7 linked regions of the Homo sapiens genome follow. The protein of the gene in region 1 purifies or fractionates together with the protein of each later gene. This does not show direct contact. Each region holds a gene or a part of one and is shown in the gene's direction. Other genes may lie near its edges. The genes, in order: SLC23A1, ALG1, LETM1, CMTM6, ICMT, HACD2 and GALNT2.

Evidence for each region.
Region 2: the proteins of SLC23A1 (region 1) and ALG1 purify together in Homo sapiens (affinity purification with mass spectrometry; one large-scale study listed by BioGRID and IntAct). This does not show direct contact.
Region 3: the proteins of SLC23A1 (region 1) and LETM1 purify together in Homo sapiens (affinity purification with mass spectrometry; one large-scale study listed by BioGRID and IntAct). This does not show direct contact.
Region 4: the proteins of SLC23A1 (region 1) and CMTM6 purify together in Homo sapiens (affinity purification with mass spectrometry; one large-scale study listed by BioGRID and IntAct). This does not show direct contact.
Region 5: the proteins of SLC23A1 (region 1) and ICMT purify together in Homo sapiens (affinity purification with mass spectrometry; one large-scale study listed by BioGRID and IntAct). This does not show direct contact.
Region 6: the proteins of SLC23A1 (region 1) and HACD2 purify together in Homo sapiens (affinity purification with mass spectrometry; one large-scale study listed by BioGRID and IntAct). This does not show direct contact.
Region 7: the proteins of SLC23A1 (region 1) and GALNT2 purify together in Homo sapiens (affinity purification with mass spectrometry; one large-scale study listed by BioGRID and IntAct). This does not show direct contact.

What each region holds. Positions count from the first base shown.
Region 1 is NC_000005.10:139,376,542-139,380,570, reverse strand, and holds part of SLC23A1 (solute carrier family 23 member 1), read left to right. Parts: coding exon 1-6; coding exon of another isoform or gene 7-18; intron 19-181; coding exon 182-363; intron 364-494; coding exon 495-615; intron 616-736; coding exon 737-893; intron 894-1,216; coding exon 1,217-1,364; intron 1,365-1,886; coding exon 1,887-1,992; intron 1,993-2,219; coding exon 2,220-2,349; intron 2,350-2,452; coding exon 2,453-2,596; intron 2,597-3,073; coding exon 3,074-3,169; intron 3,170-4,029.
Region 2 is NC_000016.10:5,070,358-5,074,941, forward strand, and holds the start of ALG1 (chitobiosyldiphosphodolichol beta-mannosyltransferase), read left to right. Parts: upstream 1-1,485; 5' UTR 1,486-1,492; coding exon 1,493-1,700; intron 1,701-1,890; exon of another isoform or gene 1,891-1,946; intron 1,947-2,593; coding exon 2,594-2,671; intron 2,672-2,795; coding exon 2,796-2,899; intron 2,900-4,584. UniProt on the Homo sapiens protein: Mannosyltransferase that operates in the biosynthetic pathway of dolichol-linked oligosaccharides, the glycan precursors employed in protein asparagine (N)-glycosylation.
Region 3 is NC_000004.12:1,831,844-1,835,872, reverse strand, and holds part of LETM1 (mitochondrial proton/calcium exchanger protein precursor), read left to right. Parts: intron 1-890; coding exon 891-1,028; intron 1,029-2,925; coding exon 2,926-3,129; intron 3,130-4,029. UniProt on the Homo sapiens protein: Plays an important role in maintenance of mitochondrial morphology and in mediating either calcium or potassium/proton antiport. Mediates proton-dependent calcium efflux from mitochondrion.
Region 4 is NC_000003.12:32,485,432-32,489,460, reverse strand, and holds part of CMTM6 (CKLF-like MARVEL transmembrane domain-containing protein 6), read left to right. Parts: intron 1-1,424; coding exon 1,425-1,523; intron 1,524-4,029. UniProt on the Homo sapiens protein: Master regulator of recycling and plasma membrane expression of PD-L1/CD274, an immune inhibitory ligand critical for immune tolerance to self and antitumor immunity.
Region 5 is NC_000001.11:6,225,600-6,229,628, reverse strand, and holds part of ICMT (protein-S-isoprenylcysteine O-methyltransferase), read left to right. Parts: intron 1-4,029. UniProt on the Homo sapiens protein: Catalyzes the post-translational methylation of isoprenylated C-terminal cysteine residues.
Region 6 is NC_000003.12:123,574,732-123,578,760, reverse strand, and holds part of HACD2 (very-long-chain (3R)-3-hydroxyacyl-CoA dehydratase 2), read left to right. Parts: intron 1-4,029. UniProt on the Homo sapiens protein: Catalyzes the third of the very long-chain fatty acids (VLCFA) elongation four-step cycle (condensation, reduction, dehydration, and reduction).
Region 7 is NC_000001.11:230,248,583-230,252,611, forward strand, and holds part of GALNT2 (polypeptide N-acetylgalactosaminyltransferase 2 precursor), read left to right. Parts: intron 1-601; coding exon 602-689; intron 690-1,874; coding exon 1,875-1,978; intron 1,979-4,029. UniProt on the Homo sapiens protein: Catalyzes the initial reaction in O-linked oligosaccharide biosynthesis, the transfer of an N-acetyl-D-galactosamine residue to a serine or threonine residue on the protein receptor.

The sequences.
Region 1 (4,029 bases):
CGGGAGGTGGGTTTGCATGTAAGCATAGAAGAGGCCGGGTCCTGAGGAGGGGCTATATGGGAGTGAGGGTGGCCGCTGAGTTTGGGGATTTGAGGAGGTGGTCCAGGAGCTTTGTTCCTGCTAGCAGCAGCCAGGTCATGACCTTTACATGGTGACTTACGGCTGATGTTTGCCCTTCCAGGTCCAGGGTGCAATCATGGTGTCCAGCGTGGTGGAGGTGGTGATTGGCCTGCTGGGGCTGCCTGGGGCCCTGCTCAACTACATTGGGCCTCTCACAGTCACCCCCACTGTCTCCCTCATTGGCCTTTCTGTCTTCCAAGCTGCTGGCGACCGAGCTGGCTCCCACTGGGGCATCTCAGCTTGGTGAGCAGGCACCAGGCCTGATCCCTGCCCAGCCCCAGCACCCTACCCTCTTCATGTCCTTGGTCCTTCTTCCCGGCTCCTGGCCCCAGCCTGGCCTCCCATCCACTTCCTGATTGTGCCTCTGCCCCCAGCTCCATTCTCCTGATCATCCTCTTCTCCCAGTACCTGCGCAACCTCACCTTCCTGCTGCCTGTCTACCGCTGGGGCAAGGGCCTCACTCTCCTCCGCATCCAGATCTTCAAAATGTTTCCTGTGAGGACCTGGCAGGCGGCTGGGGCTGGGACTATGGCCAGGGCTTGGGCTGAGGTGGGAGCAGGTTAGCCTGGACAGAGACCTCCAGTGCCTTCAGTGCCCCCTCACCCCCCTCCTTCAGATCATGCTGGCCATCATGACCGTGTGGCTGCTCTGCTATGTCCTGACCTTGACAGACGTGCTGCCCACAGACCCAAAAGCCTATGGCTTCCAGGCACGAACCGATGCCCGTGGTGACATCATGGCTATTGCACCCTGGATCCGCATCCCCTACCCCTGTGAGCAACACCCCTTGGGCCCCTCTGCCCCCAACTGAGACCACCTATGAGACAGACTCCTGGTGACCCCAATCCAGCAGGTGACACACCTAGCATTAGCCGCACATTTATAGTGCGCCCAGCAGAGTGGTGTTTTACTTAGACAAAGCTTCAGTCCCACTTCCTGGCTCTGAGTGACTCAAATAAGCTCCCACAACTGTATAGCTCCCATCCCAGCCTGAGGTCTCCTGATCTGCTCTTGCTCCTTCCAGCACTGCCCTGTCTATTCCTAACCATCACAGTCTCCTCACTGTAGCCACCATCCTGTCTCCCTCCGAGCACAGGTCAGTGGGGCCTGCCCACGGTGACTGCGGCTGCTGTCCTGGGAATGTTCAGCGCCACTCTGGCAGGCATCATTGAGTCCATCGGAGATTACTACGCCTGTGCCCGCCTGGCTGGTGCACCACCCCCTCCAGTACATGCTATCAACAGGTAGCCTACCTGCCCTCCTCAGTATCTGATCTCCTCAGGCGCCACCCAGGAAGCACACACAGGAACGGGGTGGAGGCCCAGGGGGTAGGCTTAGGCAAGTCGGGAACACGCTCCAGACCTCATTCTCCTTGTTTGTGCGATGGGGGTGCCCTCTCATCACCCCTCTGTCTTTGCTGGGAGTAGCTGAGAAGATGGTGGAGTCCAAAGGGAACCACCGTCATTGACAGCCCTCCATGTGCCCGGCTCTGACTGTGCATTCTTATGCAATCTTTGAAGCATTTTGTGAGACGGGCACCGGTATTTATCCCAGGAGGAAATTGAAGGCCAGAATTACCCACAGGAGTAAGTGCCAGGGCACTAGGACTAGCTCTGGAGCCTGAGCATTCTGGCCTGTAGTAGGGAGTGCTACAGCTGATAGCTGCAGCCCCCACAGCCCCAGAGGACGGCAGCTTGCTAAGATGATGGGGGAACACAGACTGGTGCAGAGGCTGGACCAAGCCCCGACTCTCCCTTTCCTTACAGGGGCATCTTCACCGAAGGCATTTGCTGCATCATCGCGGGGCTATTGGGCACGGGCAACGGGTCCACCTCGTCCAGTCCCAACATTGGCGTCCTGGGAATTACCAAGGTGTCGCGACGAGCCAGAGCCAAATCCTGCCCTAATTCCGTGGGCCGCAGGCCCCGCCCCAACTCGGTCCCCACTTTGGTTTAGCCCCACCCTGTCTTTGAGAGGCCTCGCCCCCGCATCAAGCCCCAGCCGGTTTATGCCTCGCTCTTATAACAGGCCCCGCCCCTGGAACTAACCCCGCCCCAGCCTCGTCCCCAGGTCTAGCTTCCCCGCTGGCTCCCCGGCAGGTGGGCAGCCGGCGCGTGGTGCAGTATGGTGCGGCTATCATGCTGGTCCTGGGCACCATCGGCAAGTTCACGGCCCTCTTCGCCTCGCTCCCTGACCCCATCCTGGGGGGCATGTTCTGCACTCTCTTTGGTGAGTGTCTGGCGCGGGCCACGGGTCGCGGTGCGGGTCGCCGAGTGGGACTCACCTGGATTACGCGTGTGCGGCGCCTCCAGCCGTTCTCTTGCGCCCTTAGGCATGATTACAGCTGTGGGGCTGTCCAACCTGCAATTTGTGGACATGAACTCCTCTCGCAACCTCTTCGTGCTGGGATTTTCCATGTTCTTCGGGCTCACGCTGCCCAATTACCTGGAGTCCAACCCTGGCGCCATCAATACAGGTGCCTCCAGCTGTTTACTGTCTCCAAAGGCGGGGTGGGCCCAAAATTTTGAGCACAGCCCCCTCCCTCAAAGGCTCCACACAGCTACAGCCACAAATCGTACCCAACTCTGGGTGTCAACCAGCAGCTGAGAGCTTGGGTCACAGCTGTCCTTTACTAAGACACTTCCTGTGGACAGATATTGACCTTTACATGTGCTTATTTAATTTTCAAAACAGCTCCATTTATCTACATTTATCATTTCTCCATTATCATTTCAACTTTACAGATGAGGAAGATGAGGCTCAGTGATTTGTCCCAGGTGAACAACTAGCAACTGGCAGAATTGGGACTTGAACCCAGAGATAGGAAAGACAGAGATAGGTTTGAGACAGGGCTTTGTACTGTTCCTTTGCCATAGCTGCACAAGAGGAAGTCCCTCAACTCTGCTCTCCAGATTGGGCCATGACACCCATTGGCCCTTGGCCTATTCCACAGGCATTCTTGAAGTGGATCAGATTCTGATTGTGCTGCTGACCACGGAGATGTTTGTGGGCGGGTGCCTTGCTTTCATACTTGACAACACAGTGCCAGGTATGGTTCGGTCCTGGGAGGGGAATGAAGAACTAGGCTGGACTCATGCACTCCAACAGATGGCCTCTGAGCTGGAGCTGTGTGGTTAGGTCCCATGCAATGCAGGCCCTGCAGGGAGCATCAGGAATAGATGGGCTGGTGGAGTGCTCACTGGCTGGAGGGAGAGAATGAGGCACAGACATGCCTCAGAGGTCTTGAAGAGGATGGGGCCGGAAGAGTCACTGCTGGGTCCTGTGAATCCTTTCCTCTCCACTTTTTCCATTTCTTTCCTTTTTTTTTTTCCGAGATGGAGTCTCGCCCTGTCACCCAGGCTGGAGTGCAGTGGTGCGATCTCAGCTCACTGCAACCTCCACTTCCCGGAGGGTTCAAGTGATTCTCCTGTCTCCTGAGTAGCTGGGACTACAGGTGGCTGCCACCACGCCCAGCTAATTTTCATATTTTTGGTAGAGATGGGGTTTCACCATATTGGGCAGGCTGGTCTTGAACTCCTGACCTCAAGTGATACGCTCGCCTCAACCTCCCAAAGTGCTGGATTACAGGCATGAGCCACTGCACCTGGCCTCCTCTCCATTTCTTAATAGCCACTGGGCTGAGGGATGTCTTTGCTTTCTTCAGAGTAGGACAGAGATAAATGCAGCATCAGTTTGTTGGCAAAATCCATCCACTCCAAATATGTCAGCAGCCTGCCACAATGGCGACTAGAAGAGCCACTAACATTTCCCTTTGGTACCAGAGCTTTTTGCAAAGATCGTGGAGGATACTTTGTGGGGCCCGCATAAAGATGCCAGTAAATATATAAAATAAATGTCACCAGGTGCTCTGATAACAAACAGTTAACATTTAGCAAACATATACTATGG
Region 2 (4,584 bases), on another chromosome or scaffold:
CCTGGAGGCAGGGGCCTCGCTGGGAACTGGAGGATAAATGCCGCTGCCAGCATGTTTGTATGCCCATCCCTGCTGTCTGCAGATACTTACTCGTCCTTCCTTTCCTTCTGAAAGCTCGGGTTTCAAGGTCTGGCTTAAGGCGTGAGCTGTCCCTTCTGAATCCATAGAAAGGGAGTGATGGGGCAATTGTGAAAAGCAGATGCAAAGTGTGCCAAGCCCTGAGCTGAGCCCAGGGACACTGGGGAGCCACATCCATGTGGGCTACCCTGTCCCGTGGGTGCTGCCTGTGGTCCTCATCAGGGGAGGAGTCTTGTTTGTTTGTTGAATACGGTCTGGGTGGTGGCTCTCCAGGTTCTGCGGCAGCTCCCAAGTGGAGGCAATGGGGTAGCATCACCAGTGAGCTCTTGGTGTTTCTCTGCAAGGGACCGCTTTCAAAGAAAAAAGGTCATGATACGGTTTGGCTGTGTCCCCACCCAAATCTCATCTTGAATTCCCATGTGTTGTGTGGAAGGGACCCAGTGGGAGGTAACTGAATCATGGGGTCAGGTGTTTCCCGTGCCGTTCTCGTGATAGTGAATAAGCCTCACGAGACCTGATTGTTTTATAAAAAGGAGTTTTCCTGCAGAAGCTCTCTTTTTGCCTGCTGCCATCTATGTAAGAGGTGACTTGCTCCTCCTTGCCTTCTGCCATGATGGTGAGGCCTTCCCAGCCATGTGGACCTGTAAGTCCATGAAACCTCTTTCTTATGTAAAGTGCTCAGTCTCGGGTATGTCTTTATCAGCAGCATGAAAACGGACTAATACAGGCCATCGCAGAGACACACATTAAACTCTCACTATGGCTACTTTGGGAGGTGAAATTGGAGGGTCACTGTGGAAATTTCCTTTCTAGCCATTGATACTTAAGCAAAATCATGATGGTGTTTACTTCCTTGTTTGTCCTTCCCCCTCTCTACCTTTTAAATGTTTTATTAAGTGTGATGTACACCCTGGAAAATGGGCAGGTAATCTGCTGCTTGAGGTACCGCCCCAAATGCAGCACACCCACATTACCAGCACCAGATCCAGAAGCAGAACCCACCAGCCCCTAACTTCTAACAGCGAGGACTGGTTTTTATTTACATAGACGGAACTCTACAATTCGTACTCGTCAGCATCTGGCTCCTTTATCAATGTTAGGATGAAATTTATCCAAATTCTTGTGTCACTATATTTTGAAATTATCTTTGAATCCTGAAGAGAGTTCTTAGATCCCAATACAGTAACAGCTTTACTTTAGTCGGGGAAATACACTGGTGTGTAGGGAATCTGGTGTATGTGCGTGTGTCCTACTACTACTAATTCTTGGCCCCGAGGGGCTCCTGGGGGTTCCCCGGGCCCCTGTTAGGGAACCGCGTCCACTTCTCGCCCTCTCGGCCCACTTCGGAGGCTCGGTCTGCGGCTGCGCACAGCGCGAGGAAGCGCGGTCACGTGACTGCTGCGGGCCAGCCAAGATGGCGGCCTCATGCTTGGTCCTGCTGGCGCTGTGTCTGCTGCTGCCGCTGCTGCTGCTGGGAGGATGGAAGCGCTGGCGCCGGGGGCGGGCGGCCCGGCATGTAGTAGCGGTGGTGCTGGGCGACGTGGGCCGCAGCCCCCGTATGCAGTACCACGCGCTGTCGTTGGCCATGCACGGCTTCTCGGTGACCCTCCTGGGGTTCTGCAGTGAGTGGCCAAGGGTCTGGGAGGGACGATGCTCTCTCAGCCGTTGATCCTCGGTTCTAACCGCCCCGGGGAGTCGAGGCGGAAGTGCTCCTTTAGTCGCCGCCTTTGGGCAGCTCTCCGAGATTAGACGAGCGGTTCTGCCCCAGCCTTTCCTGGGTGGGTCTCTAGGTATAGCCGGCGTTAATCTTGCCACGTGTCAGAAGTGTGTTAAGTGAATCCATTGCGTGGTCTCACGTAATTCTCCTAGTAAGTGGAACCCAGGTGCGTGGAACTCCAGGGCTAGTGCTGGTAGCTACGTCCCTGTGCAGCTACCCTTGTCAGGCTATGTCTGAGCTGACAGGATATTTCATTCCTCATCCCTCAACGCAGAGCTCTGCAGACAGATGTTTTCATTTGTTCTTCATGTCCAGCTTTTCCCCACAGTGTGCAGGGCAGCGGTGTCTGCTCCCTCATTATTCTCCACGTTGGTATCTTGAGAGGGTAGCTCAACCCCATCTCAGGAAGAAGTGGGAACAGCACTAGTTGCCTTTAATCCCTGTTTAGAATCTGCTATCCTAGGGTGATGGGGTAGAGTGGGACTTCCTAGGGATGGCTCTGTGGTGGGAAAATTCCACTATCCAGACAATCTAGATTAGTTTAATTGAGCACCTACTGTTTGCCAGGCATCATGTTAAGTGAAGGTAGGTAAGATTCAGGCCCTATCTCTGTGTGCCTCCTAGAGCAATCTGAACAAGAATTGGCCGCATTCTCTGTTCTGGCTAGTGAGGAGCAGAGAGAGGTTTTGAAATATCTTACTTTCCAAAACACTGTCCGTGATTCAGCCTGAGTTGGGAGATTATCTGACTTTAGATTGCTGCTTCTGGTACATTAAAGGGATCATTCTCATTTTTCAGACTCCAAACCCCATGATGAGCTCTTGCAGAACAACAGAATTCAGATTGTGGGGTTGACAGAACTTCAGAGTCTTGCAGGTAGGATGCCGTCAACTCCAGAATCCTCTGAATCCATGGGCTGGGGGCAGGGGGTGTTCGTTTGAAAAGCCGTGCAGATTGCCAGACGCTCCTTTGGTAGTCACAGGTGTTTTCTGACTTGCAGTTGGGCCCCGAGTTTTCCAGTACGGAGTCAAAGTTGTACTTCAGGCTATGTACTTGCTGTGGAAGTTGATGTGGAGGGAGCCAGGTGCCTATATCTTTCTCCAGGTGTGTATCAGCCTCTGCCTCCCTCTGTGAGAGCCATGTTAGCAGTTTACTTTCCAGCACAAATTGGTACTATATTGCATATTCATATGTGTGTGTGTTGTGTGTATGGGCGTTTAAAGACATGAGTAGGAGCCTATGGTATGTGTCTATTTATGGCACCTATCCATGCTCTCTGTGTCATTACAGATAGTCTTACATTGTACTGACTGTGTATCAAGTGTTTTCCATGTATTAACTCATTTAGTCCTCACAGTTACCCTAAGAAATATTGCATGTAGGTAATACAAGAACCTGTTTCTTAAGGTTGTTCTCATTTAGATGAGAAAACCTAGACTGAGAAAGGCTCTGTAAGTAGCCCATCGCCATACAGCTAGGAAGTGGTGGAATCAGGATTTGAACGTAGGTCGTCAGTGTGGTTCTATAGTATACACACGCACGCATACGCGCGCACACACAAACACACATATATTTTTTTGAGACAGAGTTTCGCTCTTGCCGCCCAGGCTGGAGTGCAGTGGCGTGATCTCGGCTCACTGCAACCTCTGCCTGCCGGGTTCAAGTGATTCTCCTGCCTCAGCCTCCTGAGTAGCTGGGATTACAGGTGCCCGCCACCACGCCCAGCTAATTTTTGTATTTTTAGTAGAAATGGGGTTACGCCATGTTGGCCAGGCTGTTCTCGAACTCCTGACCTCAGGTAATCCGCCCCCCTCGGCGTCCCAAAGTGCTGGGATTACAGGCGTGCGCCACCGCGCCTGGCCTATCGTTATACTTTTAATCCCTTCCCTTGATCACTTTTTCTTTAAAAAATTTTTCTTTCTTTTCTAGCTGAAGGAAGAATACTTTTTTTTTTAAATCAATTTTTAATATATAGAAGCACCTTCCTCTTTTATTTATTTATTTTTATTTTTCCTGAGATGGAGTCTCTGTTGCTCAGGCTGGAGTGCAGTGGTGCGATCTTGGCTCACTGCACCTTCTACCTCCCGTGTTCAAGTGATTTTCCTGCCTCAGCCTCCTGAGTAGCTGGGATTACAGGCATGTGCCACCATGCCTGGCTAATTTTTGTAATTTTTTTTAGTAGAGATGGGGTTTCGCTATGCTGGCCAGGATGGTCTTGAACTCCTGACCTCAGGTGATCCACCTGCCTCGGCCTCCCAGATTGCTGGGATTACAGGCATGAACCATCGTGACCCACACCTTCCTCTTTTAATAGGCAGCCTTGAATTCCAATATGTGATGTACTATACTGCATGTATTTAGTCTCATGTTAATGGATACTCAGATTCTTCCTGATTTTGTTTTTACTTTTACAAATAGTGTGGCTCCAAGCACAGCGAGCATATGCCTTTTGTATAAGTCCAGTTTCTTTCTTAGGGTAACTTCCCAGCAGTGGAATTGTGTAGTCAAAGTTGATGCATTTTAAAAATGTGTATGTTACTGGATAGCTTTAGAGTAAGGTTGGGTCAGTTTGGCCCCCGCTGAGTGGGGGTACCTCTTCTCCCCCATGCTTACCATCACCAGCTGTTGTTAGACCTTTTTAGAATTTGCATTCCAACAGGTGAAAAATGCCATCTCTTTGTTCTGTTTTTTGCCTCCTTGATTATTGATGATCTTGGACTTTTCAGGTTGGTTCTGTTTGTTTGTTTGGTTTTTGTTTGTTTGTTTTAGAGGCAGAGTCTAGCTCTGTC
Region 3 (4,029 bases), on another chromosome or scaffold:
CTCCTGGGCACAAGTAATCCTCTTGCCATGACCTCCCAAAGTGTTATTATGGGTGTGAGCCACTGCTTCCAGCTCAATGTATTTTAAAATACAGGTTTTCTAGACCAGGAACACTCCCCTACCGGTGCTATAGGGGAGTCATGAGGTCCTTCTAGGGCAGGGTCAGCCAGCTGCAGCCCACAGGCCAGATCAGGACCCTGCCTGTTCTCAGCAGAGCCCTGTGGGGACCTGCGATGCCCAGTCATGTGTCTTGTCTGTGAGGCACCAGCAGAGTTAAGCATTTGTTTTAGACCACACAGCCATGAAGGCCAGACGCCTTCCTGTCTAGCCCATTACGGAAAGTGTGCCGATCCTTGCTTTAGGGAATCACACGAGTTTGTTTGTTTTTGTTTGTTTGTTTGTTTGTTTTTGTTTTGTTTTTGTTTTTTTTTTGAGACGGAGTTTCGCTCTGTCACCCAGGCTGGAGAGTGCAGTGGTGCAATCTCAGCTCACTGTAGCCTCCACCTCCTGGGTTCAAGCGATTCTTGTGCCTCAGCCTCCCAAGTAGCTGGGATTACAGGTGTGCATGCCTGGCTAATTTTTGTGTTTTTAGTAGAGACGGGGTTTCACCGTGTTGGCCAGGCTGGTCTCAAACTCCTGACCTCAGGTGATCCACCCACCTTGGCCTCCCAAAGTGCTGGGATTACAGGCATGAGCCACTGTGCCCGGCCCACACGGGTACTTTTTAAAACCATGAAATAAAAGAGTTTGAGAATGTATTGCACTTAGATGAGAGTCAGTGTGTTGTGAAATGTTTCTGGGAGTGGGGGTCGGGCACAGGCGTGAGATGTTTTCCTTGCCCGAACCACAGTCTGAGCAGTTGGAATGCAGTGCCCTCTCTGCCCTTGCAGGAGGAGAGGCTGAAGAAGGAGCTTCGGGTCAAGCTGGAGCTGGCCAAGTTCCTCCAGGACACCATCGAGGAGATGGCCTTGAAGAACAAGGCAGCCAAGGGCAGCGCCACCAAAGACTTCTCTGTGTTTTTCCAGAAGGTGCTGTGATACGTCTGAGTCCCTGTGACCTCACCAGGGAGCCTTCCCTGATTTTCTGTTTCCCTTTCGCTGTGCTCAGCAGAGTGGAGCTCCCCCAGGTGCTGGCTGGCGCTTGAAAGTTTACCCAGGAGGCTCAGTCGGGGGCCAGTGGAGTGTCAGGAGTCTGCCCCCACGAGCTCCCAGTGAGTTAAGCTGTGGTGGCTGCGCCTCGTCAGCCTTCAGAATTATGGGCGTCTGTGTCTCATCACCCTGCAGCTGTCCAGGAGCAGTAGAATCTGACCCATGAGGAGCCTGAGACCCTGATGGTGTGAGGTGTGGGTGGCTTGGCCGGGCTCCTCTGCTGGGCATTGCCCTCTGGCTGGAGTCAGTCAAGAAGATCCCAGGTCCCAGGGGCTGGTCAGAGGCCTGGACTGTGGGAGCAGTGGGGGCTGGAGAGGAGGAGCGGCCCTTGAGGTTTCCTGCGGTCATGTGGTGAGTGAGGTGAGGATGGGGAGACGGCAGCTGCCACGGACCGAGATCCCTGAGGACTAGATGGGGTTCACGAGGCCGGTGTTGTTGGCTTGAGGGACTTGTGCCACTTTGGAGTGAGAAGGATGTGTCTGAAGTGCAGGAAGAGCTTAAACCAGGGCCTAGAAACTCCAGCCATGCGTGTGCGTTGTCTGTGGGGTTTTCCCGCTGCAGCACAGAGGCGAGTGGTTTCCATGGCTGCAAAGCCAGAAATACTTGCTGTCTGGCCCTTGACAGAAAAGACTGCCAGGCTGAGGCCTAACCACGGAGAAGCCTCTCGGGAGGAGGCGACACAGCCATGGGGCTGCTGAGCCCCCCAGGGAGTGGGTGGTGGTTCCAGCAAGATGTTTTAGGGGGAGCCATGCTTTGGGAGCCTCACCCAGGACATCGTGCCTTGCAGAGCAGGAGGGGCCCGTCCCAACCTTTCCTGGGCCGCCCAGCTGCCAAGAAGGATGTGCTTGCAGTCACCTGCACGGGGGTGTGCTGCATAGGGCCGCCCCCAGGAGCACACCTGAAATTGTGTCTCAGAGCTGGCATCCTGCATGTTACGATTTGAGTTGGGCACCAAGTCAGCCTCGTCCTCCCTCATCTGTCACCTCTGCTAGGTACCCTCCTAGCCCAGCTCTTGGCAGAGACTGAGCTGGTGGCTTGTCCCTCAGGTGGTAGGAACTGCAGAGGATCACCCAAAGGGCCCTGAGTGATCCACGCTAAGGGACTCTAGCTCTCCCTAAAGAGCTAGATGGCCACCCCTCCCCCAAGGCTCAGGCAGTCATCCGTGGGAGATGTAGGTGCACACAGGTGCACCTCTTCCTGCCCCAGAGCAGCAGGGTCCCGGCCACTTCTGTGGCAGAGAGAGGATCACAGGACCTGCATGCAGCAGCCTGTGGGCCCGGGCGTCTCCCCCAGCAGACAGCAGCCTCAGCTTTGCTGGTTCAGGCAGGAGAGGTCCACAGGCCAGACGCCACCTTTCCCCAGGCTAGCCCAGCACCGGAGTCAGAAGTCAGTGGTTTGAGGCCAAGCTGGGCAGGTGACTTGAGGTCGGGTATTTGAGACCAGCCTGGCCAACATAGTGAAATCCCATCTCTACTAAAATACAAAAATTAGCTGGGTGTGGTGGCGCAGCCTGTAATCCCAGCTACTCGGGAGGCTAAGGCAGGAGAATCCCTTGAACCCAGGAGGTGGAGGTTGCAGTGAACCGAGATTACACCACTGCATTCCAGCCTGGGTAACAGAGCGAGACCCTGTCTCAAACAAAAAAAAAAAAGAAGAAGTAGTCAGTGGTTTGAGTCCCTGAGGATGAGAGGCAGCACCCTTTGGGAATGTGGTTGGTCGTGGGAGGGAGCCGGGTGGGCGCGTGTCCCGGGGATGACCCTTGTGACCACTTCCGCAGATCCGGGAAACAGGGGAGAGGCCCAGCAATGAGGAAATCATGCGTTTTTCCAAATTATTTGAGGATGAGCTGACCCTGGACAACCTGACACGGCCGCAGCTGGTGGCCCTGTGCAAGCTGCTGGAGCTACAGTCCATCGGCACCAACAACTTCCTGCGCTTCCAGCTTACCATGCGGCTGCGCTCCATAAAGGCAGACGACAAGGTGAGCCTGGCCATACTCCGCGCCACAGCTCTGGTGTTTTACCTTTTCGTTTCCTGATGATAAAAGCAGCATGTCCTCATTGTAGAAACTCTGGAAGATGCTGAACGATCGAAAATAAGCTCACTAGGAGTCTTGCCACTTGCAGATTGCAGATCCTTTGAAGATGGATGTCTTTTCTCTGGCACCTTCTCGGATGATCTCTCTGTTTGGATTTCGTCAGATTTATAATAACTTGCTTAGTTGTGTCTGTCTTTGTGTTCATCCTGCTTATTGATGACAGTGCCTCTGTGCCTCTCTCCTCACATCAGGGTCTTCATCGAGGGTCCATTTGCCCCTTTGCCCTGTCCTGTCCATCGCACGTGCTTGCCTCTGTGCTTCACGCCCTTTTGTGCTTTCAGGGCGCTGCCCTCCTTCTAGGTCTGATTACTCCTTTTTTTTTTTGAGACGGTGTTTCGATCTTGTTGCCCAGGTTGGAGTGCAGTGGCGAGATCTCGACTCACTGCAACCTCTGCCTCCTGGGTTCAAGCGATTCTCCTGCCTCAGCCTCCAGAGTAGCTGGGATTACAGGCGCCCGCCACCATACCCGGCTATTTTTTGTATTTTTTAGTAGAGACAGGGCTTCATCACATTGGCCAGGCTGGCCTCAAACTCTGGACCTCAAGCGATCTGCCCACATCGGCCTCCCAAAGTGCTGGGATTACAGGCATGAGCCACTGTGTCCGGCTGGTTACTCTTTTATTCATACTAGGAGCTCTTAAGATTTCAGTTCTCAGGTAAAACTGTTCCTCTTGTCATCTGTCTTTTTGAATGCACTAACTCTAGTTCACATTGATTACTCTAATAACTGGGTGGTCCGTAGGCCTTTTTCTTTTGCTCTCCCTTCTGATTTTGTTTGTAGTG
Region 4 (4,029 bases), on another chromosome or scaffold:
CATGGTGTTCTTGAACTCCTGACCTCAGGTGATCCACCTGTCTTGGCCTCCCAAAGTGCTGGGATTACAGGTGTGAACCACCGTGCCCGGCAAGAAAACCTCTTACATTTTATATAAATGTTAAGTGAATGATTGACAATTTAGGAATTCTGTGTTAAATAGTTTTATTGATTTTTTTTTTTTTTTTTTTTGAGATGGAGTCTCGCTCTGTCGCCCAGGCTGGAATGCAGTGGTGTGACCTTGGCTCACTGCAACCTCTGCCTCCTGGGTTCAAGTGATTCTCTTGCCTCAGCCTCCAGAATAGCTGGGACTACAGGCACCCACCACCACGCCCAGCTAATTTTTTTTGTATTTTTAGTAGAGACAGGGTTTCACCATGTTGGTCAGGCTGGTCTCGAACTCCTGACCTCGTGATCTGCCCGTCTCGGCCTCCCAAAGTGCTGAGATTACAGGCGTGAGCCACCGTGCCTGGCCAGTTTTATTGATATTAGGTTTAGTGGAGTTTGCAGTTCAGAAAACTCAAAAAGTATCAGACTTAAAACCCTTTGGAGTGGCTATCATTTTACCAAGTTTCCCTTTCTGAATCAAGTATATATGTCATTACTGTTTTCAGTTGGCATATGAGAGCCTTGTGAGGTAATGCCTGAGAGAGCACTTGGAAACCCATGAAACATCTCATGATTGTAAGCTGCATTATGATAAGATATGGAAGCTTTTATGTAGTAGATAAACTCATCATATAAGCTCACTGTAGATTACCCACTTGGAACAGTTGAAGGCAATGTGTTATTCCAGAAAGCTTCAGTGTCTAAAAAACACACTATTGGCATACTTCTATTTAATAACGGGTGGTTTTTAAAATTCTTTCTTTTAGAAAGTGCTTTCAAAGCATTGGAGTGCTCTCAGAGATGTCATCCTACCATAAAATACTTTGAAAGGAAAGAAAAATGCTTTTTTGCTGGAAGTAAGATGGAATTGTAATAAATGCTTTGGCTTAGATAATTTTAATATGTCCCAGAGAAAAAGAGGACACACACAAACACTTGCACGAGATACACACGAGATCTTTTCCGGGACTGTTTTTTTTTTTTTTTCTTTTTTTGGACTGGATAATAAAAAATGTCCCAGTTAGCTGGGACTACAGGCTCATGCCACCTCTCCTGGCATAGGGGATTGTTGTTATTAAAAGTTTATCTTGTAATGTGTTCTCTCAATAATCCCAGCCCAGTGTGGATACTGTTTTTTTACAGGGTATTTATTGAATGCCAGGCTTATTGAAAAGTTAGAAGTTTGGGTATGTAAGTTTGGGTTGTATCAAGAAAAACAAGTAAGTAGCCAGAGCTTTTTAAAGTTAAAAATGAAAAAGTTCATTTCCATGAATCTAACTGTATTGTATTCCTTTTGTGTTTTGTATGTATGCATAGGATTTTTATATTACTTTGGGAACAGGATGTGTGTTTTTGTTGGCATCCATCATTTTTGTTTCCACACATGACAGGACTTCAGCTGAGATTGCTGCAATTGTAAGTACCTTGTATTTTTAACATTGCTTATTTTTGTTTCCTTAGAAATATGGAATTTGGAGAGTACTTGACAAGTTATACAGCATGTTAGAGTTGTTTTTCTTATAACTTACTTTTTAGTGTAATTTTGAATAGAAGACCTACAAGCAAATCAATATGATAGCCTTTAAAACCTAGAGCCTATAGAATTTGACTGAATTTTGTTTAAAAAAAATCCACTTACTCCACATACCGTGTGTTATTGCTAATGGAAGTGGTAAAATTGACTTTATTATTTTATATTTCTCCACTTTCAGTTCAATAAATGCACACCTACATGCCAGGTGTTTTCTAGGTATGGAGAATATATGGGAGAAATGATTCAGAGACTCAGTCTAGAAAAGGAGACGGAAAAGTAAAATTGTAATGGAGTTTGTTAAATGAACCAATAGCAGTTGTTCTGAGACTGGGTGCCGTGGCTCAGGCTTGTAATCCCAGCACTTTGGGAGGCCAAGGTGAGAGAATCACTTGAAGCCAGGAGTTCAAGACCAGCCTGGGCAAGCAACATAGTGAGACCTCATCTCTATAAGAAGAAAAAAAAAAATAATAGAAAAAAAAGTTGGTCTAGACAGCAGTTTTCAGTGGGTTATACATATCCTTAAAGTTTCATCAGACTTTTCAAGGAGTATGAGGCAGAGATAGTGTTGAGGAAATTAATTTCCAGCTTTTAAACCTCCATATGTAATCTTTTTTAAAACTTGTATGTCTGAGAATTTATCTCTGGTGAAGGAGTCTCACCGGCACTTTTCCACCTTCCCATTCACAGTCGCCACCTACCTTGCCCCTCAAAAAGAAAAAAAACTTGCTTGTCCTGAATCTTGCTGGATTAGTTCCTTCTTGCCCTGCTATATAGAAATACCTGACACTGGGTAACTTATAAAGAAAAGAGGTTTAATTGCCTCATGGTTCTGACAGCTCTATAGGAAGCATAGCAAGGGAGGCCTCAGGAAATTTACAGTCATGGCAGAAGGCGAGGCGGAAGCAGGCACATCTTACATGGCCAGAGCAGGAGGAATAGAGAGAGTGGGGAGGTGCTACACACTTTTAAACAAGCAGATCTTGCAGTAACTCACTATTACAAGAACAGCGCCAGAGGGGGAGTCTGCCCCATGATCCTGTCACTTCCAGCTAGGCTCCACCCCCAACATTGGGGATTATAATTTGACATGAGAATTGGGTGGGGACACAAACCCAAGCCATATCACTTATTATGGTGGATTACCCTGAATTGTAAAACAAAAAAACCCTTGAGTACAACAAAGAGACAGTTGAAAATAAAGATCCAATTTTTCTCTGAAATTCTTGGGGCCAGAATTTTTTTCTTTTGGATTCAGAATATTCTGGATTTTAGAAAGGTAGTGCTGTACATATGCTATATTACACAACACCACTTGAGGGCCTGCGACAGTACCCTGTAATCTAACATTGGTATATCTGAAGTAAAACATATGAATATTTATAGTAAAAGGGATAAGAAAAGACTAAGTAGTCTTACTCCATGTAAATAGGCTTACTTTGTGTCAATTTTGAGCCAAGTGAATCATGAAAACCTTGAGTTAATGTAGTTCTTTGGGTTTCGGAATTGTAAATTAAGGATCATGGCCTTGGACTGGTAGCAGTGCTGTGAACTTGAATGACTAGCAACTGGACAACAAATCATCTTGCAAGTCAGCTGGTTTCCAATTAATACTTTGTTTTTAACAAAATTGAAGTTAGGCCGGGCGTGGTGGGTGGTGGGTCAACGCCTGTAATCCCAGCACTTTGGGAGGCCAAGGCGGGCGGATCAGGAGGTCAGAAGTTTGAGACCAGCTTGGCCAATATAGTGAAAGCTTGTCTCTACTAAAAATACAAAACTTAGCCGGGCATGGTGGCAGGCGCCTGTAGTCCCAGCTACTCGAGAGGCTGAGGCAGGAAAATCGCTTGAACCGAGGAGGCGGAGGTTGCAGTGAGCCAAGATTGTGCCACTGCACTCCAGTGTAAGTGACAGAGTGAGACTCCATCTCAAAAACCAAAAACAAAATTGAAGTTGTAATTAATAGAGTTGTCAGCTAATACATCATTAAAACTGCATTTTATGATAGAAAACTCAAAAGGAGTTCAGAGAATTGCATGGCTATATTTATCTATTCATATGACAACAGTTTCTTAGCACTTACATGTGTAAAAACAAAACATAGAAATAAAATTAACACTGAATCTTGATTCATTCTAGCAATAAGCAATATTTATTCATGGGTACATGAACCAATAGAAGAGAAAAATCAAAGTTTTAATAGGGCTTTATGGTTAATTTCAGTTTAGAAACATTTTTGTTGCAGAGGAGTATGAGATGGTGATCAATAAAATAATGAGTTTTTTAACTCATTTTTAATTTTAAAAAGCTCTGGCTACTTATTTGTATAAAAATACATTACTATAAAATTCTGTGGGGAAAGTGAAATGAAGTTGAGGAAAAATTGAGTTCCAG
Region 5 (4,029 bases), on another chromosome or scaffold:
GGAGTGCGGTGTCACAATCTCGGCTCATTGCAACCTCCGCCTCCCGGGTTTGAGTGATTCTCCTGCCTCAGCCTTCTAAGTAGCTGAAACTACAGATGTGTGTCATCACACCTGGCTAATTTTTGTATTTTTTAATTAATTTATTTTTTTGAGATGGAGTTTCACTCTTGTTGCCCAGGCTGGAGTGCAATCATGTGATCTCAGCTCACTGCAACCTCTGCCTCCCGGGTTCAAGCGATTCTCCTGCCTCAGCCTCCTGAGTAGCTGGGATTACAGGCATGCGCCACCATACCCGGCTAATTTTGTATTTTTAGTAGAGACGGGGTTTCTCCATGTTGGTCAGGCTGTTCTCGAACTCCCAACCTCAGGTGATCTGCCTGCCTTGGCCTCCCAAAGCGTTGGGATTACAGACATGAGCCACCATGCCCAGCCCCTGGCTAATTTTTGTATTTTTGTAGAGACGGGGTTTTTCCATGTTGCCTAGGCTGGCCTCGAACTCCTGCGGTTGAGTGATCTACCCGCCTCGGCCTCTCAAAGTGCTGGGATTACAGGCGTGAGCCACCACATGTATTTCTTTTTCTTTCTTTTTTTTTTTTGAGACAGAGTCTCACTTTGTCGCCCAGGCTGGAGTGCAGTGGTGCGATCTTGGCTCACTGCAACCTCCACCTCCCGGGTTCAAGTGAGTCTCCTGCCTCAGCCCCCGCGAGTAGCTGGGATTACAGTTGTGCACTACCTCGCCCAGCTAATTTTTTGTATTTTTAGTAGGTTTAGTAGGGGTTTCACTGTGTTGGCCAGGCGGTTCTCAAACTCCTGACCTCAGATGATCCACCCGCTTCAGCCTCCCAAAGTGCTGGGATTACAGGCGTGAGCCACTGCATCCAACCCGCATATTTCTTTTTTAAAATTACTATTTGGCTAGGCACAGTGGCTTTGGGAGACCAGAGCAGGAGGATTGCTTGAGGCCAGGAATTAGAAACCAGCTTGGCTGGCCGGGCATGGTGGCTCATGCCTGTAATCCCAGCACTTTGGGAGGCTGAGGCAGGCAGATCATGAGGTCAGGAGATCAAGACCATCCTGGCTAACACAGTGAAGCCTCATCTCTACTAAAAATACAAACAATTAGCCTGGTGTGGTGGCACGCATCTGTAGTCCCAGCTACTTGGGAGGCTGAGGCAGGAGAATGGCGTGAACCCGGGAGGCGGAGCTTGCAGTGAGCCGAGATCGCGCCACCGTACTCCAGCCTGGGCGACAGAGCGAGACTCCATCTCAAAAAAAAAAAAGAAAAAGAAACCAGCTTGGCCAACATAGTGAGAACCCTTCTCTCCAGAGGAAAAAACTAAAAATATATCTGGAAGTTGTAGTGTGCACCTGTAGTCCCAGCTACTCAGGAGGCTGAGGCAGGAGGATCGCTTTGATTGCTGCTGTACTCCAGTCTGGGCAACAGAGTGAGACCCTGTCTTAAAAACAGAAAACAAAATTATTTATTTGTGTATTAAAGATGAGATCTCGCTGTGTTGCCCAAGCTAGTCTCAAACTCCTGGGTTCCAGCAGACCTTCTGCTTTTGTCTCCTGAGTAGCTGGGACTATAAGTGTGCACCACCATGCCCAGCTAACTTTTTGTTTTTTGTAGAGATGGGGTCTTAGTGTTGCCCAGGCAGATTTTGAACTCCTGGGCTCAAGCAGTCCTCTCACTGCAGCCTCTCAAAATGCTGGGATTACAGGCATGATCCACCATGCCCAACCCAAAGCCTTATTTCTTTTTTTTTTCTTTTTGAGACAGAGTCTCGCTCTGTCGCCCAGGCTGGAGTGCAGTGGCGCAATCTCGGCTCACTGCAAGCTCCGCCTCCTGGGTTCACGCCATTCTCCTGCCTCAGCCTCCTGAGTAGCTGGGACTACAGGCGCCCGCCACCATGCCTGGCTAAATTTTTTGTATTTTTAGTAGAGACGGGGTTTCACTGTGTTAGCCAGGATGATCTCAATCTCCTGACCTCATGATCCACTTGCCTCAGTCTCCCAAAGTGCTGGGATTACAGGCGTGAGCCATCGCGCCTGGCCGCCTTATTTCTTGAAACTGTTTCTTGATTCTTTACTCTTGGTCCTAGAAAAACTTGGCCAAAGAATGTGAATAGATCTTGGAAAATTCACGAAGTGTTTGGGAAAAGTCTCCAAGTCTTTGGGCAAATCCAGAGATCTCTCAGGCATCCCATCAGCAATGCATGGTCCTTGGTGACTCTGGTGACCCCTAACGGTATAGGTGGGGCAAATGATCACATAGCATTTACAATTTTTGTTTCTGAAACATGTAAAACCGCCACATTAACAATCACCTTCCCTGGGAACAAATTAGTTATGACTGAATAATGTAATTTGCCATAAATGCTTGCTTCCTGTATATGTGTGTGCACTAGAACCAAAGGGTTTTCCATACCTTTTTGCCCATAGATTTTTTTTACATTGTGCTCCAGCACTTGTGTGTGTATGAAAGGAACATGTCTTTCCTGATATAATACTTACACTTACTGTTTACAAAATCCTGTTTTCTATCTTATTATTTCAATACTGTTCATAATGTACTAAATGATTTCATGGCTTAGTAACAGGCTGCAGCCTGCTATAGAGAACTCCCACTGTAGGGTATCCCCAGCAAGCTATGCCAGATGTGAGGGTACAGGCCCCGGAGTCACTGACTGGGCCAGTCCTGATTCTGACATTCACTGCTTGGCCTCCTTCTCCTCTCATGTTAAAGTGGGGGCAGCTAGACATAGTGGCACATGCCTGTAGTTCCCCCTACTCTGGAAGCTGAGGCAGGAGGATGGCTTGAGGCCAAGAGTTCAAGTCCAGCCTGGGCAATATAGTGAGACCCTGTCTTTAAAAAATAATAAAATTTTAAAAAAAACAAAGTGGGGATAGTAGCGTGCCCTCAAAGGTTTGCCATGAGAGTTGAACAGGGTAATGATTGTAAAGGGCTTAGCATGGCGCTGGGAACATAGTAAGTGCTCAATAAGAGAAGGTGTGAGAGGTCAGGACATGAGCCTGGCTCTCCGGGTGGCTGTATTGGAGCCTAAAATATATATTCAGAAAACATACAGAAAATGTATGTTGGGGAAGATGCACATCCACAGGGGACCAGTGGGCAGGTGTAGGTGAGTGGTTCCCTGAGGAGCTGGGGAATGCTTTTGGCCTTGAAGGACTGTTTGGCTGGAGATCAGTGGGAAGGATGTTCTTTGTTTTTTTTGAGAGGGAGTTTCGCTCTGTCGCCCAGGCTGGTATGCAGTGGCGATCTCAGCTCACTGCAACCTCTGCCTCCTGGGTTCAAGCAATTCTCCTGCCTCAGCCTCCCAAGTAGCTGGGATTACAGGCTCCCACCACTACGCCCAGCTAATTTTTCTATTTTTGGTAGAGACGGGGATTCGCCATGTTGGCCAAGCTTGTCTCAAGCTCCTGACCTCAGGTGATCTGCCCTCCTTGGCCTCCCAAAGTACTGCAATTAACAGACATGAGCCACCGTACCTGGCCAGGATGTTCTTAAAGGTGGAAGAAAGGGCCAGGAGTTCGAGACCAGCTTGGGCAACATTGTGAAACCCCATCTCTACAAAAAATACAAAAATTAGCTGGGTGTGGTGGCATGTGCCCTTAGTCCCAGCTACTTGGGAGGCTGAGGTGGGAGAATCACTTGAGCCCAAGCAGTTAAGGCTGCAGTGAGCCATGATCACGCCACTGCACTCCACGTGACAGAGTGACAATCTGTCTCGGGGGAAAAAAAAGAGGCAAAGTGGGCACAGCGTGGGGAGGGCAGGAGACTGGGGAAGTGGGCGAAGTGCTGCTCTTCTGGGGTTGGAAACCCAGACTCAGGGGGTGGGGTTCAGTCTCTGGAGCTCTCTGAGCGTGGAGGTAATCTGCTGGAAGGGGCATTTCGGAAGCTGAGTTTTGTGGCACTGTATCTCGTGCTGAAGCAGAGGCTGTGGGTTTAGGAGGCAGAGGCCCAGGCAGCTGTGGTGTAAGCGAATGCATTTGTGGTGGGAGGGTCCT
Region 6 (4,029 bases), on another chromosome or scaffold:
TCTCTTTATGCTAAATGTTATTCTTTATTAGGTTCTGTGGGAGTTTACTTAAAAAGGAAATCGAAATTACTTGTTCTCCAATTTCACATCTTCTTAAGAAAATAATAACACTTTGCTTTTTAAAAGACATAAAAACATTTACCAAGCAAGTACAAAGGAGCATGTAGTAGCAAGGTACAAAAGGAAGCCTGGCTGAGTACCATGGCTCACACCTGTAATCCCAGCACTTTAGGAGGCTGACATGGGGGGATTGCTTGAGGCCAGAAATTCAAGACCATCCTGGGAAACATAGCGAGACCCCATCTCTACAAAAAATTAAAAAATTGGCCAGGCATGGTAGCACATGCCTGTAGTCCCAGCTAATCAGGAGACTGAGGTGGGAGGATCACTTGTGCCCAGGAGTTCAAGGCTACAGTGAGCCATGATCGTGCCACTGCACTCCAGCCTGGGTGACAGAGCAAGACCCCATTTCCAAAAAAAAAAGTATCTATAAATAAAATGCTACTCATGGATAAAATGTGGTCTATGGATATAAACATTCATAAAATTAATAAAGGCAAATGAATTACTGATATATGCCTGGATAAATCTTGAAAAAATGCATGTGAAAGGAGGCAGATACAAAAAGTCACAAATAGTATGATTTCATTTATAAGAAATATCCAGAATAGGCAAATCCATAGTGACAGAAAGTAGAGGAATTGTTAGGGGCTGTGGGGAGAGAGAGTGGGGTGTGACTGCTAATGGTACAGGATTTCCTTTTAAGGTGATGATATTGTTCTTGAAATAGTGGTGGTGGGTGCACAACTCTGTGAACATATTAAAAACCACTAGATTGTACAGTTTAAAATTGTGAATTTTGTGGCATGTGAATTATATGTCAGTTTTTAAAAAACGAGTTCCTCTGTAATGAGTTGTGGGTGTTTTCTACTTTATTCATTTTTGGAGTCCATGATATTCATTGATGAGGCAGATGTTATCTTTGCATATTTGTCAAGTATAGTTAGATTAAAAATTAGTGGACTAATGCAGTTATGGCAGTTTAAAATTATGTTTGAGAGAATTTGGGTTTCTAAATATCTTTGGTTAACATAAGACTGTAATTATAGCAAAGACACTTTCTTTTTTTTTTTTTTTTTTGAGACAGAGTCTCACTCCATCGCCCAGGCTGGAGTGCAGTGGCGCGATCTCGGCTCACTGCAAGCTCCGCCTCCCGGGTTCACGCCATTCTCCTGCCTCAGCTTCCCGAGTAGCTGGGACTACAGGCGCCCGCCACCACACCCGGCTAATTTTTTGTATTTTTAGTAGAGACGGGGTTTCACCATGTTAGCCAGGATGGTCTCGATCTCCTGACCTCATGATCCGCCAGCCTCGGCCTCCCAAATTGCTGGGATTACAAGTGTGAGCCACTGCGCCCGGCCAAAGACACTTTCAAATACTCATGATTGGATATGCCTCTGTGATTGACAGTGAGATTTCAAATGGGTTAAAGATTGCTCTGCAAAGAGGTTAACTGTTGAGATTGATACAGGCTATCTTCAACATATGTACATTGCTGTATATGACATTTACCTACCATTGTGCATCTGGGACTTCCTGATGGACCACAGGAATTCCCTTTTCTTCCCATTCTCTTCCAGATCTTTCTTCTACTTGAAACCCCTTATCTACAAAAATGAATAAACAACCCAATCTCATTTCTGATCGTGTCCTGGAATTGATCTAGGGCAAGGTCTGGAGAAGTGGTGGGAGACAGCAGACAGCTTTTGTTAGTCTTCTAACCCCAGCACTTTCTCAGCCTCATCTGTGTGTTCCTGTCTCACTCTGCAGACCTCACTTCACAATGCTCTTCAGATCCTTTAATGAATAGGAAATTGATTTTGGGTATTTCTATAAAATACAGCAAAGTCTTAGAAACTTGCAGTGTCCTTAAGAAGAAAGATCCCTTCTTATCTCCCTGCCAGTTTTTCTTTCTTTATGGCTCAAACACTAACTGATTTTTGCCATGGAGGTATTGTGCTTCAGACTGCTTTTGTGAACTGGTTTGAGGACATAACCGTTGTCTGTTATATTTTTCCTTCTTGTGGAAACATTCTGATTTCCCAGTAATAGTCTCAAAAAGGAACTTCTGAAATGCAAGCTACATGCATGTGTTAGGCTCCTTTTATTCTGGACCCATTTTGAGGAAACACATCTCTAAAAGAGGCTTTTGAAAAGCTAGCAAGAGCAAGTTATAGTGTAGATATCTAACACAAATAGGAATGACAACAAATCCCAGAAAAACCAGCTTCTCAAACAGTGTGAAAACCAGAGGAAAACTCTAACTTGATTAAAATTAATAAGTGTCACAACATTAGAAGGGAAGAGAGAGCTGGAAGGAAACAGGAACCCACCCACACAGGCCTCACTGCTTGGTGACTCAAGCAAATAGAAGCAAATTGATGTGGTATTCAAAGAGGTACAATAGCTAACATCTGTAGAAGGGAATGTACTGAAATTAAAAAAAAAAAAGAACTAAAAATATCAATGGTGGCAATATAGGGCACGAAGGAGCCACAGTGCAAGAAATAGGTGATACTGAAGATTCAAAAAAGGCGGGAGTTTCCACTCACGTTCTCATATAAAATGAATTGCAGAACAGAAGTCATAGGGAAATTTTCAAAGTTCACCATGTAAAAGAAACATTACAAAACATTATAACAGAAAAACAATATATATAGAACCAATGTATCTAGAAAACCTGATGAGGTTGTATAAGCTTTCAAAAAGTAAGACTACCAGAGGAAGTAGAAAAGGTTGGAATATACAGCTTATAAATAATCAGGGAGAAAAGTTATAGAAAACTTTGCTGAACTGAAAGGCCACCTCACTATGGTTAGTGAGAGTTTATGGTGTTCCACAACAAAAAAATTTCTTCCCTTCCTGAGTACTTAAACAATTTCCAGCATAAAAGAGCAGATTTTAAAATGTAATAGTTAAAAACAACTTGGGACCTTAAACTTGAAAGAAGAAAAAATCCCCGTGTAGTAGGAAATATTAGGTTCCTGGATAACAGACCATGCAGTTTCCTAAAGCTGGAAACATTTTGAAAACACTTAGAAAAGCTAATGGAACTTTGAAAGCACCTTACCAAAGATTATTTAACTTTAATCAGAGTAGTTAGCTGTTATCAAAGAGTAACTGTTATATAAATAAATAAAATTAACCAAGTTTTCAGACTAGCACTGTCCAATAGGACTTTCTGCAGTGATAACGTTGGAACGCTGTCCAAAACAGTAGCCACTAGTCACTTAAAATGTGGCTAGTGGGTCTGAGAAACTGAGTTTTTAATTTTATTTACTTTTGGTCAGGAGTGGTGGCTGACACCTGTAATCCCAGCACTTTGGAAGGCCAAGGTGGGAGGATCGCTTCAGGCCAGGAGTTCAAGACCAGCTTGGGCAATATAGCAAGACCTCGCCTCTGCAAAAAATTTTAAAAATTTAAAAAATTAGCCGGATACAGTGGCGCATATTAGTCCTAGCTACTCGGGAGGCTAAGGCAGGAGAATCGCTTGAGCCCAGGAGTTTCAGGCTGAAGTAAGTTATGGTCACTCCACTGCACTCCAAGTCTAGGAGACAGAGCAAGACCCTGTTTTCCAAAAAAAAAAAAAATGAAAATTCTTTACTCTTTATTTAAGTTTAAATAGGCACATATGGCTAGTGGCTGCACAGTATAAGCCTTTAGACCACGGTACAGAATGCAGTGTGATCATGTGGAATCCCATAAGATATTTCAGATTTTACCAGGATAGAATGAAGTGGGAAGGAGGATAAACATAACGATGTAAATTTTGTATCACTCCAGAGTTCATAAATTTTTAAATTGATAATAGAATAGTTATATGCTGATGTTTTCAGATTAGGAAAATCAATAGGGAATAAAAGCACAATTGCAGATACTGAAAAAGGTATGGAAGAGTATATATCAAACTGTTAATTAGAGCTTACCTCTGGAGGGGCGTGGTATTTTGGGGCAAGGGGGGAGTAAAAG
Region 7 (4,029 bases), on another chromosome or scaffold:
GCAACAGGTGCCAAATATATCTGAAATTGAAGCTTATTTGCCCAGCTTGGCAACTTCCGCTGGCTCATTTTCCCTTAAAGTTTTCATATTCCCAGCATGTTCCCACTCCATTCTTGCTGCAAATACAGTCTGAAGTTTGCTGGCCCAGGGAACTGACAAAGCCTCGTTCCCTCCCCAGCATTGCCTTCCCCTGGGGCAGTGTTGGAGGTACCACGGCTTGATTTTCATGTTGGATGCTCTTTTTCCTCACATCCTTACAGCCCTTGGACATGCCCTGGTTATCACCACACAGACCCCAGTTCTCTCCCCATATTTCATTTTTTCCTATGCATTTCAATATTAGAAAAGCCTGACTCACATTTTCTTTAGGGAGGGGCAGGGAGAAGATTTCAACATTCACCCTCACTGCCGGTCTCTCTCTTCAGCTACACCCACGCCCCCAGTCCCCTTCTCTCTCCTCCACACCTTCTTTTTTGGCTTTGTTTTGGTTTTCATTGAGTTCTGTCCAAACATCGAATATTTTTAAGCTGTGAGGAATGGGGGTGTCGGGAGGAAGTGGCCAGTCTCTTGTCAACACCCTGTTTCTTTTCCTGGCTGGCAGGTTTTGATTGGAACTTGGTATTCAAGTGGGATTACATGACGCCTGAGCAGAGAAGGTCCCGGCAGGGGAACCCAGTCGCCCCTATAAAGTAAGTGCCAGCATCCTTCAGGGTGCCCCTCCCAGATGAGACCCCAGGTTCCAGCTTCTTTGCTGGGCCCGCACCGCCTGGAGACCCAGTGGGGGCTGTTCACCTTCTGCCCTCCGGTTTCCCCTCGTCTCAGCTCAAAGATGAGCACCTTCCACCAGGTCATAGAATAAAATCCTTGGAGATTTCTTTTCCACAGTTGAAGTCTCACATAGGTTTATAAGGCCTATCTGCTAGGTCTGTGCATTCCTGTATGTTGATAATGTAGAGCGTTTCTGTAGCAGAGCAGGATCTCCGAGCTGACCCCAGGCCCAGGAAAAGGGGCTTGGTGGGCAGCAGGAGGCTTACTGCTGCTACTGCCCAGCAGGCCTTTGCTCTCCTGCAGAGGAAGGAGCCCATGCTCATGAAGCCCATGCTTTTAAGATTCCCAGGCCGGGCGGTGGGCTTTCTGGTTGAGAGTCAGGATGCCTTCTCTAGCTGGGGAGAGAAGGGGGCCACCTCTTCCAAGTTGGCACACGGTTAAGTGAGATAGCATTCACAGAGTACTTAGCGCTGAAATATATTTGCTGACATTTAGCCAACATCTGCAGTGTGCCATAGACCTTCCCAGCACTTTACACTGAATTCGCACAGCATCGCTTCTGGGAACAAAGTAGGGAGCTCAGTGTACATCTGTTGTCAACCCCTTCCTGGGATGATGAAGTGAGGAGCATGGTGGGTTCCCTTGTAGGAGGTGGAGTCTCATCTATGATAGTGATAATGAGAGCTGGTGCTGTGGAGCATTTCCTAAGCGTGCTCAGGGCTTTATGCCCATGATTTTTTGCAATCCTCGTAGCTACCCTATAAGGAAACTGACACACAGAAAGGCCGAGTTCTTTGCCTATGGCAGCATGTCAGTGAGTAGTGATCCAGCCCCAGCAGTCGCTCCCACATAGGGGAGGCTCAGTCCAGCCCCTGGCACTGTGGGAACATCCAGGCAGGGACAGTGGGGGAGGCATTTGAAGGCAGCAGTGGTGAAGCAGAGAGAGTGGCATGCTGGGCACTGAGCAGAAAACAGTGGCAGTGTGGCTGTTCTGAAGATCAGCTTATTGTTAGGGAATCAAGGCTTGGCCTTGGCGCAAGGGTGCTGGCAATCTAACCTTGACTTTGCCCTCTCCTCCCTCCCCCCTCTTCTTTCTGCCTCTTTAGAACCCCCATGATTGCTGGTGGGCTGTTTGTGATGGATAAGTTCTATTTTGAAGAACTGGGGAAGTACGACATGATGATGGATGTGTGGGGAGGAGAGAACCTAGGTATGTACAAGCCTCAAATCTCAGGACAGAGAAGTGCCTCAGCTCTGCAAAAGGCAGGGTGCCAATTGGAAAAAAAATTTAAAAGGCTTCAGAGTGACCATTCACTGGGCTTAATCGATCCTTGCAAACACATATGTAACACCCCTTTTGCTCTTGAAAGTCTCATGAGTTGGGCATTAAAATGTGCCTCCCTAGGTTAGAGTGGAGGATGCCAGAATACGGATAAAGTCTTTGAAGGGAAATGCAAACTCTTTCAAGGCGTCTGAACCCAAGTGTTTGGAATGTTGCAGGCTTGCAAAAACAGAGGGAAACAGTCCAGGAGCTCAGATTCATGCTGAGTGGTGGAGAGTGGAAAATGAACCCCGGCGAGGCTGGTGGGATTGATTGAATTGAAATCATGAAAATCCGATGGGGCAGGGAGGCCTTGGCACTTAATCCCTTCTCGACTACCTTTGCGAATGGTTCTCATTTGTTTTTCTGTTTGTTTGTTTTTTTGTTTTTAAATACCCCATGCAAATTATTTTTACCCAGGTTTAGGCACAGCAAAATTTTGCACATTGTGGTCTATATTGGTAGCCTTATATTTACTGCATAAAAGATGAAAAGATGTGTTTTGTTTGTTTAGGGTTTGGAGTGGGGGAGATCTTTTTTGCTTGTTTCAATTAAAGCCTTTTGTTTCAAATGCTTGACATTCTGAGCGAATTCTCCTGGGCTGCTGAGTGTTGTTAACTTACATTCGTCCTTGGGTGAGTGTACCCTGGAGGACAGGGGAGAAGGAAAGGGGAAAATGAGGCCACTCATTTTTAATAGTTTTGAGACTTTGAAAGTTTTTGTTACTTTAAAAGAAAAGACTAGCCTAGCCTATTATTTTTCCATTGTTTTATGATGTTGAAGTCAGTGATACCATCTCATCTTTGAGGATTTCTCTGCCTTGGTTTGATGTTGAAAGCTTCTTTAGGCTCGATTACTATACTGCACGGGTGGAGAGACCGTGAGTCAAACTCCTTTTGGGTTGTTTTAAAAAAATGATACATTAACCTCTAGGGAAAGCTTGGATTGAAGTCACTTGAGTACAAAAGGCTTCAGAATTGTTAACCCTCTAAAGAGAGTTCTGTCACCCTGTTCCATGGGTATCCCCTAATGGTTTAGTGGAAATCCAGCAGGCCAGGGTCGCCCAGTAGGGCAGCGTATCGTGTAGGTGGCCATTTCTCAAAAACAGTGTGGTTTTCAGAAGTTTGCATACTATTAGCTGAAATGAGACATCAGCCAGCATTTTGTGTCATCGTGTAGGAAGAGTGTTGATTTACATATCTAAGGAGGCATTCACCCAGAGACTGGGGGGTAGATTTGTTGTAAGGAGCTGCTTTATTGTGGTTTGGTGTTTGTATTTATTATGTAGCTGTGCTAGAAGGTTCTAGGGTCTGAGCGGTTCAGGTTGGGGTGAAGATGAACCCTGCAAGCAGGAGCACATCTCTGCCCAGGAAGGCTGGGGCATCTGTCCCTCCGTGAGGGGCTCTCCTGGGTTATGCCAAGGACTTGGACTCCCAGTGAGGTTTGGAGGGCTCAAGAGCTTCACGTGAGAAGGCCATGCCGTGAGCCTTTCTCCTTAGCACTGCTCTAGCTTCTGCTTCTGGGGGCCGTGCACACTACTAGCCATTGCCAACCTGAGGGGCCTCTGTGGGTGTGCATTGGGAGAGGTGTATGGTGCAGAGAGGCCCGAGTAAGATCCAAAACCACCTCCTCAACGTGTGCCCCGCTGGAATGACCAGAGCTTCCCATTTTCCTAATCATGTAAGTCCTTATGTCATTTAAGCAATTAAAATGGAGGACCAAGAACCTAACCCTTAACTCTAACAATGGGGGTAAGGCTCCTTGGGGGCATCATCTGTGTTTCTCTACATCCCTGTCATGCAAGGATGATGCTAAGTACTTCCAGGGAATCATCTGTTTGTGCTTTCTTAACGGAGTGTGGTCTGCAGAGGTCATGACACCTTGCCCAGGGTCTCAGAACCAAGATGTAAACACTAACTGCCTAATTAAAAAGCCATTGA